Homo sapiens: one gene and its partner. The protein of the gene in region 1 purifies or fractionates together with the protein of each later gene. This does not show direct contact. Each region holds a gene or a part of one and is shown in the gene's direction. Other genes may lie near its edges.

Region 1 (7,904 bases):
ACCTCAGCCTCCCGAGTAGCTGGGATTACAGGCCTGTGCCACCATGCCCAGCTAATTTTTGTATTTTTTGTAGAGACAGGGTTTCACCATGTTGTCCAGGGTAGTCTTGATCTCCTGAGCTCAAGTGATCCATCCTTTTGGCCTCCCAAAGTGCTGGGATTGCAGACATGAGCCACTGCACTTGGCCCTATTCTGACTTTTAATAACATAGATTTAATTTGGCCAGTTTTGAACTTAATAAAGATGAAATGATACAGATTGTACTCATTTTATGTCTAGCTTCCTCTTCTCCTTTTTTTTTTTTTTTTTTTTTTTTTTTTTAAGAGACAGGGTCTCGCTGTGTCGCCCAGGCTGGAGTGCAGTGGTGCAATCATAGCTCACTGCAGCCTTGACCTCCTGGCCTCAAGGATCCTCTCACCTTGATCTCTCAGGTAGCTAGGACTACAGGTGTGCACCACTGTGCCTAGCTAATTTGTGTCTGGCTTCTTTAGCTATGCATTGTTGGGAAGAGGTCACCTATGTTGTTCACACAGCAGTAGGCCATTTATTTTTGTGCTTTATAATATCTGTTTATACAAACCTCTGTTGATGGATATTCGAGTTGTTTACAGTTTGGAACTAGTAAAAATAAATACTGCTATGAACTTCATAATAACACCAAATTGGAAACAATGCAAACATCCATCAATAAGAGAATGGATAATCAAACTGTAAGTATATTTATATGAGGAAATACTAATGAGTAATAAAAAAAGACCAAACTACTGATATATGTGACATCATGGATAAATCTCAAAAACATTGTGTTAATTGAAAAAAGCCAAACACTAAAGAATATATAAAGTATGAAGTCCAAGAGCAGACAAAGCTAATCTGTAGTGACAAAAATCAGAAAGTAAAGTCCAGGTGCAGTGTGGCTCATGCCTGTAATCCCAGCACTTTGAGAGGCTGAGCCAGGCGGATCATTTGAGAGGCCGAGGCGGGTGGATCATTCGAGACCAGCCTGACTAACATGGTGAAACCCTGTCTCCACTAAAAATACAAAACAAATTAGCTGGACATGGTGGCGCATGCCCATATTCACAGCTACTTGGGAGGATGAGGCAGGAGAATTGCTTGAATCACGAGGTGGAGGTTGCAGTGAGCCAAGATCGTGCCACTGCACTCCAGCCTGGGCGACAGAGTGAGACTCCATCTCAAAAAAAAAAAAAAATCAGTAAGTAACTTCCAGTGATGAGGGAAATGGATTAAAAAGGAGCATAAGTCAAGGAAACTTTCTGGGGTGATGATAAAAATGTTTTATCTCTTGATTTGGGTGTGGCAGTTACATGGATGTGTACAAGTGTCAAAATCCATTGAGCTGAACACTTACTATCTGTGCATTCGATTGTATATCAATTATAACTCAATAAAAATTAAATGTAAGGGCTGGGTGTCATAGCTCACTCCTGTAATCCCAGCACTTTGGGAGGCCGAGGTGGGTGAATTGCTTGAGCCCAGGAGTTTGAGACCAGCCTGGGCAACATGGCAAGACCACATCTCAACAAAAAAATACAAAAATTAGCCAGGTGTGGTGGTGCGTGCCTGTAGTCCCAGCTACTTGGAGGCCTGAGGTAGGAAGATGGCTTGAGCCAGGGAGATTGAGGCTGCAGTGAGTCGAGATCACGCCACTGCACTCCAGCCTGTCTCCGAAAAAAAAAAACAAAAAGTAAATAAGTATAGAAAAATGCTGCTTGGTCCTAAAAATGCTCCTATGAACTATACCTGATTTTTGGAACACGCATAGTTGGGTATATAGTTAGGAGTAGAATTGCTGGGTCAGAAGGTGCATGGGAATCCTGGCTCTGTCACTTAACAGCTGTATGACATTAGGCAAGTACCCAGAATCTCTAGTTTCTTTATCCGTACCAAGGAGCTAATATCGCCTTGATGGGTGCAAACCCATGAAGACTACTTTCGTTAATTAACAAAAGTATGTAGAGCTGAGAGACATTTTCTCTAAAGCCATAGATTTTTAGAAAATTTGTTGCTCAAATTATCAGTAAGAATGGAATATATCACTCTTACCTGGAGGATCAGTTACTTTGATGCAGAAGAGCAGCCTCAATTTCTAACGCAGGTGCAGAGCTTCAGATAAGGGGTTTCCAGACACAACATTCCACATTTATCTTGGCATCATGGTTTCCAAGGAAACAGGATCTTGTTAGCTGGGGCCTGATGATAATCCCTTTACACATAGCCTGGTGTGTTTGGGGGCTATCAAAACACTGCTTCTTTAAAAATTTATCTACATTTCTTTCCCCCAAATCCTGGAATAACTCACTGTCTTCCTGTGTTTTGTGACATGCTCCATGATTCTTTTGGTGTGCAGTTTCCCTTGCAGCAGCAAGTTAATAAACTTAACTTTGTCTGACTACAGGTGGTCTTTATCAGATGGGCTTTATCTTGGAGATTACTGATAACGTACACAAAATGTGTTCATACTGCCTGGCACCTAACAGGCATTTAAGCAATGATAAAATTATTATTTTTATTATTCATGTGTTAATTCAATAAATGTTTGTTTGACATCCAGTATTTGCAAGGCACAGATTTACTGCTATGAGAGATGCTCACTGCAACCTCTGCCTCCCTGGCTTAAGCTACACTCCTGCCTCAGCCTCCCGAGTAGCTGGGACTACAGGCTCAGGCCACTATGCCCAGCTAATTTTTGTATTTTTGGTAGAGATAGGGTTTTGCCATTTTGCCCAGGCTGGTCTCGAACTCCTGAGCTCAAGCAATGATCAGCCTGCCTCAGCCTCCCAAAGTGCTGGAATTCCAGTTGTGAGCCACCGCGCCCAGCCTAAAAACCACTTTTATTTTACATGGAGAAAGAAAACAATATTTTTAATTCCTAAAAGAAAAATATCTTTACTGAACTTCACTTTAAATAGTGTCAAATGTAAATGAAAAAAATCATCAGTACTATTATATAGGTAAAAAAGTGCAATTTACATGACTTGCTTAAGATTTGACATAAAACTACAGATTCTAAGAAACGGTAAGGTTTTATAATAATAACCAAAACAGGCTGGGTGCGGTGGCTCACGCCTGTAATCCCAACACTTTGGGAAGCCGAGGCGGGTGGATCACCTGAGGTCAGGAGTTCGAGACCAGCCTGGCCAACATGGTCAAACCCCATCTCTACTAAAAATACAAAAAGTACCCGGGCGTGGTGGTACACGCCTGTAATCCCAGCTACTCGGGAGGCTGAGGCAGGAGAATCGCTTGAACCCAGGAGGCGGAGGTTGCATTGAGCCGAGATTGCGCCATTGCACTCCAGCCTGGGCAACAGAGCAAGATTCTGTCTCAAAAATAAAATAAAATAAAATAACCAAAATAAGAGTCCCCAAATGTCATCCGTCTCTTTCTAGAGACAGGGAAAAAAAATGCTCTCATAAATTCTCCAACGAAAAATAGAGATAGTCACCCTTAAAAAATCCTAAGGCTGGTGGGTGGATTGCTTGAGCCCAGGAGTTTGAGACCAGCCTGGACAACATGGCCAAACCCCAACACTACAAAAAATATAAAAATTAGCTGGGCGTGGTGGCGCACGCCTGTAATCCTAGCTACTCAGAGGTTAGGTGGTAGGACCTCCTGAGCCCAGGAGAAGGAGGATGCAGTGAGCAGAGATCGCGCCACTGCACTCCAACCTGCGTGACAGAGCGGGACCCTGTCTCAAAAAAAATAAAATAAAGAAAAAATCCTAAGGCCATATACAGGCTCATTCACTTTGGGTCTCCTTTCATCCAGGCAAGCAGCTTTCTGTCTTTGCATTTTCCAAAGACTACAAAGCAGGCTGGGGTGGGGTGGGGTGGGGTGTAGAACACAGGAAACGCAGCCAGTTCCCCTTCACTTCTCACTATCTTGATCTCCTCCCAAACCAAAATCCTATGTCTTTCCTTTTAACATAGGCTTACAAAAATGCAGTTTTCTGTGGGAACATTGAGGTCATGCATTCCAAATTACTTAAGGGAACGATTTTTAAATTTTAGGAATCTAGTTCTCCAAGATATCCCGGCTTGGGATATAGATGAACGAGCTATTTGGGAGAGATTTAGACGAGAATGAATTTTAGAGAAGTAGCGAGGTGAGGAGAGAGTCAGCTTAGCGTTTGGGTTTTGCAGTCAAATTTCAGCAAGGCGAACTAACCTCGCTGGTCTTAATTTTCTCATCGGTAAGAGGGAAAATAATAATGCTTACTTTGATGAATTACTTTACTTCAACATTTAAAAAACCGACTCTCCGTTATCTATTCTAATGATAAAAATATAGATAGAGCATCGTCCCCTGCTGTGAAAAATCTTATGAACAAGTGAATTGCGGTGAGGATTCACATAGTATGTGCTCAATAAACATTATTTTATTGTTTAGATTAGAAGAGGGGTGGAGGGAGAAATGAAAGTGGTTTGGAAACCCCAAACACTACCAAAGCCCTGGGGATGGAAGTAGAGAGGAATTTCGGGTTACGATTTGGTTCCGGGTCTGAGTTTCAACGTTGAATTCTCCCATATTTGGGCCTGAATTCTCAGAACAGAATAGGATGTAAGGGCTGAGATCATCTGGTACAGTTTTATGCAAATCGAAAATTCTTGCCTCTTGTCACTGTGCCCTGGCGAGAAACAACACCTCCACCCAAGCTCATCCAATCTCAGCCCCAACTAGGTGACGTCATCTCCCCGCCCTGCATCCCCAAGCCTCGGGGAGTCCTGTCTCTAAGCTACAGTCCCAGCTCCAGTCCCAGCTCCAGTCCCAGCGGCGCCTGCGCACTTTGGACCGGGGCGGGGAGGACGCGTGCGCGCCGCGTGAGGGCGGGGCTAGTGCGCACGCAGCCTTAGCTCCTTCCCCGCCCTTGCTCTTCCCAGTTTCTCCGTCAGCCTGCGGGTCCCGGCTGGCGGCTGCTTCCGGTAGGAGAGCGGTGTAGAGCGAGCAGGTCTCAGCTCCTCGTCATGTCATACGGTCCCTTAGACATGTACCGGAACCCGGGGCCCTCGGGGCCCCAGCTCCGGGACTTCAGCAGCATCATCCAGACGTGCAGCGGCAACATCCAGCGGATCAGCCAAGCCAGTGAGCCGGGGTACCGAGCTGGGGGGCGGGAGCTGTCCCGGGGACAGGCCTGGGTGAGGCTGCCGGGACGCAGGGCCCGGCTGGGGCTACGGCCGAGGCCACACCTGGGGCTGTCTCGGGCTGTCCACCCTGGGGGCGGTGGGCTGCCATCCCCCAATCTGTCAGGCCCGGGTTGCCCGAGGGTCCCCGGCCCCAGCTGAAGCTTGAGCTGCTTCTCTGGAGTTCTGCCCCCACGGTGCTGGGACCAAAACAGCCGACTTGACAGCCCGAGGGTGGGAAGGGGAGTGTGTGTCACCTCGAGAGCTGTGAGTGCGTTGACTTGGCGCAGTGGTCAGCCGAGTTTCTCCTGTCACCCACCTTCCTCCCCACCCACCTCGCTTTCCTCTTAGACCAGTTTGGATGGGGTTGTTTACTGATTTAGCCTTTAGGTTTACATTCTGCTCAGCCCCTGGCTCCTCGGAAATCAGCAACTTTCAATTAAGGGAAGTGGAGAGTGCATGTGTTTGGGTGACTTCATACACAGTTCTTCCTGTAATGAATTCGGAAATCAGACACAATGACTGGTATTTGAAAGGTGGGATGACTTCATTTTAATAAAGAGAATTCACCAACAGCATTTCAATTTACATTATTTTGTCTTTTGTAACAAATAATTGGGGTGTATTTTTGGATTTCAGGCAGATGAGGCTTTTGTTTTCCTTCCCTACTTAGCTGCTCTTGAACAAATCTGGTACACAGGGAAGCTAAGACACTTAGCCACAACCACATAGCAAGTAAGGCATGGTAGAGTTGTTGGTGGAATTCAGAATGCTATTGCTTGTCTTAAAACTCCCTCCTCCCCATTAGGGTCTGAGTGAAACTGTAGCTGAATGAGTCAAATACAGGGTGTTTCTTGTGCTTGAAAATCATCTTGGAGCCTTATAAACAGGAGATCAGCAGCAGCTTTACTTGGAAAGAATGGTGGTCATCATCCTTGTTGTTTATTATTGTTTTGTGAGCTTGGCGTACTCTGTTAATAGGTAGAACTAGTTAGTCCTGAATTACAATTATATTCTATATTTTAAAGAGTGTCACTTTGCTTTCGTTTTTAAACTTTTAAAAATTTTTCTTTTTTGTAGAGATGAAGTCTTGCTATGTTGGCCAGGCTGGTCTCAAACCCCTGGGCACAAGCACTTCTCCCACTTTAGCCTCCCAAAGTGCTGGGATTACAGGCGTGAGCCACTGTGCCTAGCCTAATTTTTTTGATTTAAAATATTTTTAATTTATTTTTTCGAGACAGAGTCTACTTCTGTCACCCAGGCAGAATGCAGTGATCTGAGTGAAGTGGTACAATCCTAGCTCACTATAACCTTGAATTCCTGATCAGCTTGCTGAGTAGCAAGGACTACAAGGATGCATCTACCGTGCCAGGCTAATTTTTAAATTTTTTGTAGGGATGGGGTCTCACTATGTTGCCCAGGCTCACTTTGCTTTTAAATCTAAATGTATATTGTAGAATTTGAGAAGTAGAAAGTTTCTGATCAAAAGGGATTGAGACTCTGGAAGTGAAAGGAAGAATATGTGGCCTGTTAAAATCCAGAAGTAAAAAAAATTAATATGACCACTGGTTAGAAAGTATAGTACTGTTTGTTCCAGTTTCCTTTTGTGAAGGAGCTGTAATACAGGTTAGATCAGAAAATTCTAGTTCAAGGCTGAAATTTTCTTGTTGAAGCTAAATCTAATTTTAATATCTATTTGCGAAATATTCATTCAACATGTATCCATCTATCCATCTTCGTGTGTATTTTATATATATATAAAACCAGAATACTCCCAAAGGTAGATCCGACATACAGTTTTAAATTTAAATTTAAATTTTTATTTTGAGACAGGGTCTCACTCTGTCACCCAGGCTGGTATGCAGTGGCATGATCTCAGCTCACTGCAGCCTCAACCTCCCTGGCTCAAGCAGTCCTCCTGCCTCAGCCCTACAAGTAGCTGGGACTACAGGTGTGCACCACCACGCCCGGCTAATTTTTATATTTTTTGTAGAGATGGAGTTTCACCATGTTGTCCAGTCTGGTCTTGAACTCCTGTGCTCAAGTGATCCACCCACCTTGGCCTCCGAATAGGCCAGGATTACAGGCATGAATCATCATGCCTGGCCTTCAACATATATTTATTTGAGTATGTAGTAAGTATAAGAACTGGCATGGATCTTTCAACAGGGAACCTGCAGAGTTCATAACCAAAATATAAAGTTGAAAGGGATTGGTGCTATAGAAGACATATAAATAACATGCAGGTATTCTGGGAAGAGAGAGATTGTTTTTAATTGAGAAGGCATTATGGCATTTGAGTTATGTCTGGAAAGAGGATGGAAAGATTTGGACCTTCGAAGGTAAAGAGGAGAAGAGCATTCCAGGAGGGAATAAAATGAACAGGCATCATAGTGGGGAAGCATAGAGTATATCTAGAAGAGTAATTTAATTTGGCTAGAGTGGTGGATTCCAGAAAGTAGTGGGAAAAAAGGATTGAAAGGTAAATTGTGGCCCAAACATGAAGGATGTTAAATGCTAAGCTAAGGGGCTTGGATTTAGTTATTTAGGAAAGTGCGAATTGAATTCAAAGGGAGAGACTGGAATCAGAGATACCAGTTAGGGCTGTGAAAATGAAAAGAAAGGAAAGGATAGGAGAGGTTTCCTTGGTGATAGAATTGGTAAGATTTAGCTATTGATTGGGCATTGGGCCTCAGGGGATCATTTAAGTCAACTGTTAGTAATATTAATAGCTAACATTTGAGTACATACTGTGTTCCA
Region 2 (7,687 bases), on another chromosome or scaffold:
TAAAAATAATAATAAAAAATAGCCAGGTGTGGTGGCACATACCCACAGTCCCAGTTACTTGGGAGGTTGAGGCAGGAGGATTGCTTGAGGCTAGGAGTTTGAGGCTGCAGTGAGCCATGATTATGCCACTGCACTCCAACCTGGGTGACAGAGTAAGACCCTGTCTCTAAAAAAAAAGAAAGAATAATTTAAAAAAGAAAGAAAGAAAGAAAGAAAAGAAATTACCTTGAAGAAGGGCCATGGCCAGACTTGAGAGAAAACACCTTCCAAGTGTCCAAATGCTTCTTCCTCTTCTTCCGTAATGACACAGGACTTTCAGCCAAAATTGACTGAGTTCTGCTCTGGAATTCGCACTGCACTGTGTTCTGAACACAGATGGTGAGTGCAGTCACAGACGATGGCAACTAACAGACTACGCGGTGGCTGTGGACAGGGAGATGAGGAGACGTGGTTGCCTCTGGGCACTTTTTGGAGGCAAAGTCGACAGAATTTCCTACAGATTGCATGTGTTGTGCGACAGAAAGAGCAGAGGAGCATGACTCCAAGTGTTTGGGCAAGGAGAGGGTGAAGCTGCCATGAACCCAGCATGGCTGAGCCTGAAGGGAGAGCAGGTATGGGAGCATCAGGAGCTCAGATTTGAACAGATTATGTATGACATTTTAGATGTCTAGGTGGAGCTGCTAAGAAGGCATTGGACACAGGAATCTGGAGAACGAATTCTCCATATTAATCTCATAGAGATTCAGTGGTGATTTTTAAAAGTCAATGTATTCATTAACACTTAACCAGAAAAAAAAATACAGATCATAATGGCTTCTATTAGTTTTATCAGAAAAAAAGCCAAGAACAATCTTCTAAAATCCTATTCTGATGAAAGGAACTGTCAAATGATAGCAGAATTTGTTCCAAAGGTTTTTTGTAAATTCGTTATTTATAACTCAGAATATATTTTCCCAGAGAAATGATTTTATGATTCATGGCTAACCTCTTGGGCTGGGTCTCAGAAGTGTATCTCTTGTATAACATAACAGTATATTTGTGGGGGAAAAGGGTAAAATTACACAGTCAGGCTACTAGCAATTAAACAAACAAAGAAAACTTAGCGATATAGGAGCTCTTATGTTTCCTTATTTATGATTCCTGATTTGAAATAGAGCTCATTTGACCCATCAAACCCTCTCTCCAAGAAATGACAAAGACCTTTTATTTGACTGGAACATTCAGCTGTGGGAGGTAGGTCCAAGGATTTTGCTTCCTGGCAGCAGACTAGGCTAGGGGAAGGAAGCAGGTTTGTGTAGACAAGGAACCTGGGGATGCAGGCTTAAAGAACTCTCAGAGACTTAAGCCCACCATGAGAGAAGGAATGGGGTTTGCAAGCTCTATTTTAAGCCTCATTCACACTTTGATGTGAATCATTTTAGTCACATCCAAAACAAGTAGATCACTCAGGAATGCACATTTTTATTGAGGCAGGATAAAGAAAAAGAGTTTCTAGAACTAGAGGAGAGGATTGGCTCAGATGGAATCACTTGGGCCAGCAGCCAGCAAGTCTGTATGTTGACGGGGTAGGTGAGGGAGGACATGAGCGTCTAAAGAGCCTTAGGAGAGGAGGCAAGAGGTAAGTTGAAGTCACAAAGACAACTTTTGCTGAGGTTCTGGTGGTAGCTGCTGTGATAACAAGAATTACGTTTATGGGTCAACAAGGCCTGGGGTCACACTATCGATTCTAGCTTGGGAAACTACACGTCTTAGTCTATCATCATTTGGTCCATGCTTTCCATTCTCAGTTCTTCTAAGCTGACTTCTCAGTTTAAATTCCCCTTGCTCAACTCCCACCTCAATGTTATTGCAGGAAGAGAAGGGGAGGGGAAGAAAGTGGGGGCATTTGTGTTACACCTTTACTGTGCCCATTCTCTCTCTTCTTCTCCCCTTTACTATGAATGCATGTTAGCACATACTTACCACGGCTTCCCTGGTCAAGGGTCCTTTGAAACATAGAACCCTTGAATGCCCATGGCTATTGATATAGCTCCAACGAATGGAGGAACACCAGGGTTGTTGGTCTCGTGCTGATAGGATTAACAACACGGACACGTGGAGTGGTTTTAAGGAGTGAAAAGTTTAATAGGCAAGAAAGAAGGAAGGAAGAAGAAAACACCTCCCCCATACAGAGACAGAGGTAGGGAGGATTTGAACAAAGAGAAAACCCAGTGTGCAGTGGAAAAGTGGTTGCTTATATTGGGATCCTGGAGGAGGTGGTGTCTGGTTTGCATAGGGCCCAGGGGATTGGTTTGACCAGGTGTGTCATTTACATAGCTCTCGAAAAACCTGGCCCTCCCACCTTAGCCCTTTAATATGCAAATACAGGTCACCGTGATGTTCTGAACACATGGTGTTATCTGGAGGTGGCCATGACACTTGGTACACCTGATGACAAGGAAGAGATGGCGGAATCACCATGTTGAGTGAACTCAGTTTCTAAGGACTGACATTTGCATATCAAAGCTTGCGGGCCTGGCTCTTCAAGCTGCCTTTTCTGTTAGAAAAGAGATGGTTCAGGGGTTGTTTCTTAAAACAGGAAAATTTCCACTGAGAACATTTACCCTTACTATCTGCCTAAAAAGTATTTCTTAATAACTGCTATATCACTATCGTGGGGTTTTTTTCCCATTCTTTCTTTGTTGATGCCAAAGTAAAATTAAGTTAAATATTGTATCCTCTCATAGATCATGAATGCAATGAGGGCAGGCATTATATCTCTTGCTCAACAATTGGGTCCTAGGTGTGTAGGCTTAATGTCTTGTGCAGAGTGGGCATTCAGTAAACAATAATTCAATAATGAATGAATAAATAAGGGAGAATGTGGAGGAGGTTATAGGCTTAGAAAACTTTCTGGGCACTTTCAATGGTTTTAGAGGGTGATGGTATTGGGTGGTTAATAAATCTAAACTCACTTGAAAACATAAGGCTTTCCACTGGTAACAGTCCTTTTATATTTAATCAGTCATCCCAGAGTTGTGGTGAATTGGAAGTCATGGCCAAAGTATTTTACACTCCTCTATTTTCCTACCTCTTGAATCTGAACTTGCCTTATGACATGTTTTCATCAATAAAATGTGGCAGAAGTAATGTGCAGTGGGAGTCCAGGCCTTACGAAGCCTGAAGTTTCCACTTTCACTCTCTTGAAATTCTGCTGCCTTCCTATAAAGGAAGCCCAGGCTAGACAACCAAATGAAGAGGGGTCTTGTGTGTGGGTACTAAATAAGAAAGTGAGGATAGAGAAAAAAATCCAAGGCCAGTTCACCTGTTGGCACTAGAAAAAATGCAAAATATTGATTGGCAAATAGATGCAGGAAGATCGATCGATTGTGTGGTGAGGCCAAAGGGAAGAACTCTTCGAATAGTTATTTCATATTCAACAATAAGTGAGAGTTGGCAGGCAAGCAGAGATTGTGTAGGAGTTTTGAGAAGGAAGGTGTGAACAGCCCTCCAAGTGAGTGGGTGAGTGATTTGACCATGGAAACATAGGAGAGTTGCTCAGCAGCACCAAAGGTCGGCTTAATGTTTATGATCATTAAAATGAGTAATGTTAGCATCCTCGTTTGTTTTTTTCCAGTCAAATTCACTTGCTCAAGAGCAGTTCCAGAGTAGGTGGAGAGCTGGGGTTTTTCCTGGCTTGGAGAAAGGAGGGAGAGGGAGCCAAGGCCGTTGAGAGTATACGCACTAAAATGATGGGACATGAATTTATGCTGGGAAAAGAAGGACGTGTAAGAGCAGAGGGATAGGGAAAGGTGAGGAATCTGGTGAAGGTTAAGTAATTACTAGCACTAGGAGGTATGAGCTGGAATGGAAAGGGGAAGTAAAGTGAGCTGTTTGAAACTGACACTACGGAGGGTACACAGTTATGAGTAAGGTCAAGGGTGTGATCCCAGGAATGTGTGGCTGCGCTAGTGTGGGAAAGATCACAGGAGGTTGGAAGCTGAGAGGCTGTATAGTCATTGCAGGAATCATCCATGTGGATATTGAAATCACCATGAATTATGAATGAAGCCAACTGTATTACTGGTTACTATTTTTACCAGACCACTGTACGCGACTTTAGATCCCTCAACTTCCCATTTAGAGCACTTATCACGGCTTGAAATATTAGAGCGATTATTTGGGTTGGGCGCGGATTATTTGACAGTAATCAGGGTTTACAAGTCTGTTTCGTTTCTTGACTGACATACAATTAATACCCAAAAGGCAGAATGGATAGAAGAATACTATTCTATCTGTCATACAGAGAAACTTCAGATGTAATAAATTATAAAGCCAATTAACCCTACAAACAGGATCCACAGCAGTTTCACATTAATGAAAAAGCAAGACTTCAAGAGGGCGGGAGTTTTTGTCTGCTGATCTTCCCGCATCTAAAATAGTGCCTGACACATATTAGGTGCTTTGCAAATATTGAATGAAAGAATACGCCCCATCAGTATCTCACCGCGCCTGCGCTAGATGCCCTAGGTGGGGCCAGCCTTGACGCGCTGCGCCTGCGCAATGTCTCTTTGCGGGGCGCACCGGCAGGCTCCCAGCCCCGCTTCGTCGCAGCGGCTTGGGCCCTCCGGCCCTCCGTAGCCGCTCGACTGTCGCGCTGCACCAGCTTCCTCCTCGGCGTTCCCACGCCTATTTGGGCGGATTCTTGGCGCCGGAGGAAGAGGCAGGGTCACCCTCTCTCCACGTCAGAGACCTGACTGTGGAGATGGCGGCTCAGAAGATAAACGAGGGGCTGGAACACCTCGCCAAAGCAGAGAAATAGTGAGTGAGAACCTTCCGGGGGCCTGTGTGTAGACGCCGGGTCCGTCTCTCACTGGCGCGGCCTTAGCACCCGGGGGGGGCGGGAGGGAGGGCTCAGGGCTGAGGGGCCTCGGCGCGCTGGTGCCCGCAGGGCTGCCGGGGCTCGGTGTCCTCTGGGTCACACTCCCGGGGTCGGGGTCAGCTCTGCGGCGCCTCGGGAAGCGCCGTGGGTCCACCCCGCCGGAAGTCCGCTCCCCAGAGCCGGTGTGGGCGGGGACTCGGCGCAGTGCTGCGGGGCGAGGGCTTCTCTACTTGGGCGCTCTGCTCCTGAAGATTGTGGTGGGGGCTGTCTGTGCATCGGAGGCTCGTTAGCAGCATCCTTGGCCTCTACCTGCTGGGTGCCGGTCGCATCTCTTCCCCATTTGTGGCAACCCAAAATGTCATCTGGGGAACAACATCGCTCTGTTGAGAACCACCGCCCTAGAAGAGCCCCCTGTGTGGAGGGGACCATAGGTTTACCCCAAAAACTCCTCGGTGAACCTTTGTCATCTGGCATTTTACTGTCCCTGTGGGCAGGGACTGTGCTTCGTTCGTCCTTTGATGTGTATGTCCTGCCACCTCTGGTACAGTACGTAGTAGGCACCCTGCAAATGTTTGTGGGACTGAACTGATAATCCTTAATTCATCCTTTTGGCAGCCTCTTCCCCCCGTTTCATTACTCCAGTGCATTTTTATCTGGCAGTTACAGTTAATAGAAAGTCAGCATTGTGGGCCGGGCGCGGTGGCTCACGTCTGCAATCCCAGCACTTTGGGAGGCCGAGGCGGGCGGATCACAAGGTCAGAAGATCCAGACCATCCTGGCTAACACGGTGAAAACCGTCTCTACTAAAAATACAAAAAATTAGCCGGGCGTGGTGGCGGGCGCCTGTAGTCCCAGCTACTCGGGAGCCTGAGGCAGGAGAATGGCCTGAACCCGGAAGGCAGAGCTTGCAGTGAGCCGAGATCGCGCCACTGCACTCCAGCCTGGGCCACAGAGCGAGACTCCGTCTCAAAAAAAAAAAAAAAAAAGAAAAGAAAAAGTCAGCATTGTGCTCTGTGGTGGGTGCTTCACATACATAATTTCATAAGCTGAGATCTTCACAATAACTTTCCAAATAGAGATTCTAATTTTTCGTAAGAGGAAATGAGACTCAGGGAAGCCTCATAACGACTTGCCCCCAACTGCACAGGTGAAAGATCGCAGAGCCAGTTTTCAAACAGTGGAAAAACTCAAGCTCTATCACATGACTCGAGGCAGTCAGCGTGTAAGGTGCTGGGGCTCTCCTGGTGCAGGAGGTTCCCACAACATTCTGCTTTCTAGTGGGAGCAAACGCAAAATTTGTAATAAGAATAGTGTGTGGAATAGGGACCACAAAAAAGCTGTATTAACTGTGCATAGGTAACCCAGAGGGAGAAGTTTATTCTGCCTGAGAAAATTTGAGGAGGAGATGATTTGTGAGCAGAGCTTGAAAAATACGGAATGTTTTAGACGGAGGGAAAATCTTGTGAAAGAGATTCTGTGCGCAACCTGTAGTATGTATTATACGCGGGCCTGAAAATGTGCTCTGGGAACAGTGAATGTAGTGTAGTCACAGTGCCAGGGGACGAGCTGGAGTGAAAAAGAGTTGGGGCCAGACTGTGAAGGGACAGCTTCTCACATGGCTATTGTAGGCATCCAACCAGTGGACTCGGTTAGATTTGCTTTTGGTGAAAGAAATGTGGCAGCAGGCTGGGCCCTGTCGCTCATGCCTGTAATCCCAGCACTTTGGGAGGCTGAGGCGGGTGGATCACTTGAGGTCAGGAGTTCGAGACCAGCCTGGCCAACATGGTGAAACCCTGTCTCTACTAAAAATACAAAAATTAGCCGGCTGTGGTGGCGCGCACCTGTAATCCCAATTGCTCAGGAGGCTGAGGCAGGAGAATCCCTTGAGCCCTAGAGGCGGAGGTTGCAGTGAGCGGAGATCGCGCCACTGCATTCCAGCCTGGGAGACAGAGCAAGACTCTGTATCAAAAAAATAAATAAATAAAAAGGAAAAGAAAAAGAAATGTGGCAGCAGTGTGGAGAATGGACTTTGACATATTCAGTAAACGAACATTTACAAAGTTGTCTCTGTGTACCTGTACCAGCCACAGAGGATACTGGAGTAACCAAAAGTGGTCCCTTCTTCAAGAGCTTAGAATTCACAGGTGGGCAGACAAGTTAACAGAGGACTAAAAATAGGATGTTCAGTGCTAGAATAGAAGTATTCAGTGTGGTATGGTAGAGATAGGAAGCAAGGAAAAGGTAATATGCTCAGGATGTGGGGAATGGAAGAGGAGGAAAGGTGACTCTCCCATGAAGGTACTGCCAGACATGTTAGTGGGTTGTCGACTTCAGGGGAGAGGTGGTGATGGCCTGAATTCAAATAACAGTACAGGGGTAGGACTGGGTGATGTTTGTCAGTAAGGTTGACATGCTTTAATGAGGTGCCTGCATGTAGAGATGAAGAGTTAACTCCTAGGTTTCTAACTTGGGAGACGAGTGGGAGAGGCCTTCAGCCAAGATAGGGGATATAGATTAATGGATGTGATTGGTGGGTAGGTCTGGGGCAGGGAGGTGGGGCGGGGAGGTGTGGAGTTCAGGCTTGAAGTGTTAGTTTGAAATGCTGCTAGACAGAGTTACTCAGTGGGTGGTAGGAAAAATGGGCCAGGAGCTTAGGAGATATTTGATTTTTCTCCATTTTCTAATGATGACGTAGTTCAATATTGCTGAGTAATTTTGTAAATTGATCCCCACACAGATGGTAATTTTGCTGTTTTCTTTTTTTCTGTGGAAATTGGTCAGTTTCCTTATTGATTCTTTGGAGAAAAAGGTCAAAAGGACTAACAG

What was found. Proteins that work in one complex are often made in the same cells at the same time.
Region 2: the proteins of STX12 (region 1) and NAPG purify together in Homo sapiens (affinity purification with mass spectrometry; 5 studies listed by BioGRID and IntAct, with this or other methods). This does not show direct contact.

The regions. Positions count from the first base shown.
Region 1 is NC_000001.11:27,768,320-27,776,223, forward strand, and holds the start of STX12 (syntaxin-12), read left to right. Parts: upstream 1-4,899; 5' UTR 4,900-4,988; coding exon 4,989-5,106; intron 5,107-7,904. UniProt on the Homo sapiens protein: SNARE promoting fusion of transport vesicles with target membranes. Together with SNARE STX6, promotes movement of vesicles from endosomes to the cell membrane, and may therefore function in the endocytic recycling pathway.
Region 2 is NC_000018.10:10,521,359-10,529,045, forward strand, and holds the start of NAPG (gamma-soluble NSF attachment protein), read left to right. Parts: upstream 1-4,668; 5' UTR 4,669-4,744; coding exon 4,745-4,800; intron 4,801-5,088; exon of another isoform or gene 5,089-5,216; coding exon of another isoform or gene 5,217-5,407; intron 5,408-7,642; coding exon of another isoform or gene 7,643-7,687. UniProt on the Homo sapiens protein: Required for vesicular transport between the endoplasmic reticulum and the Golgi apparatus.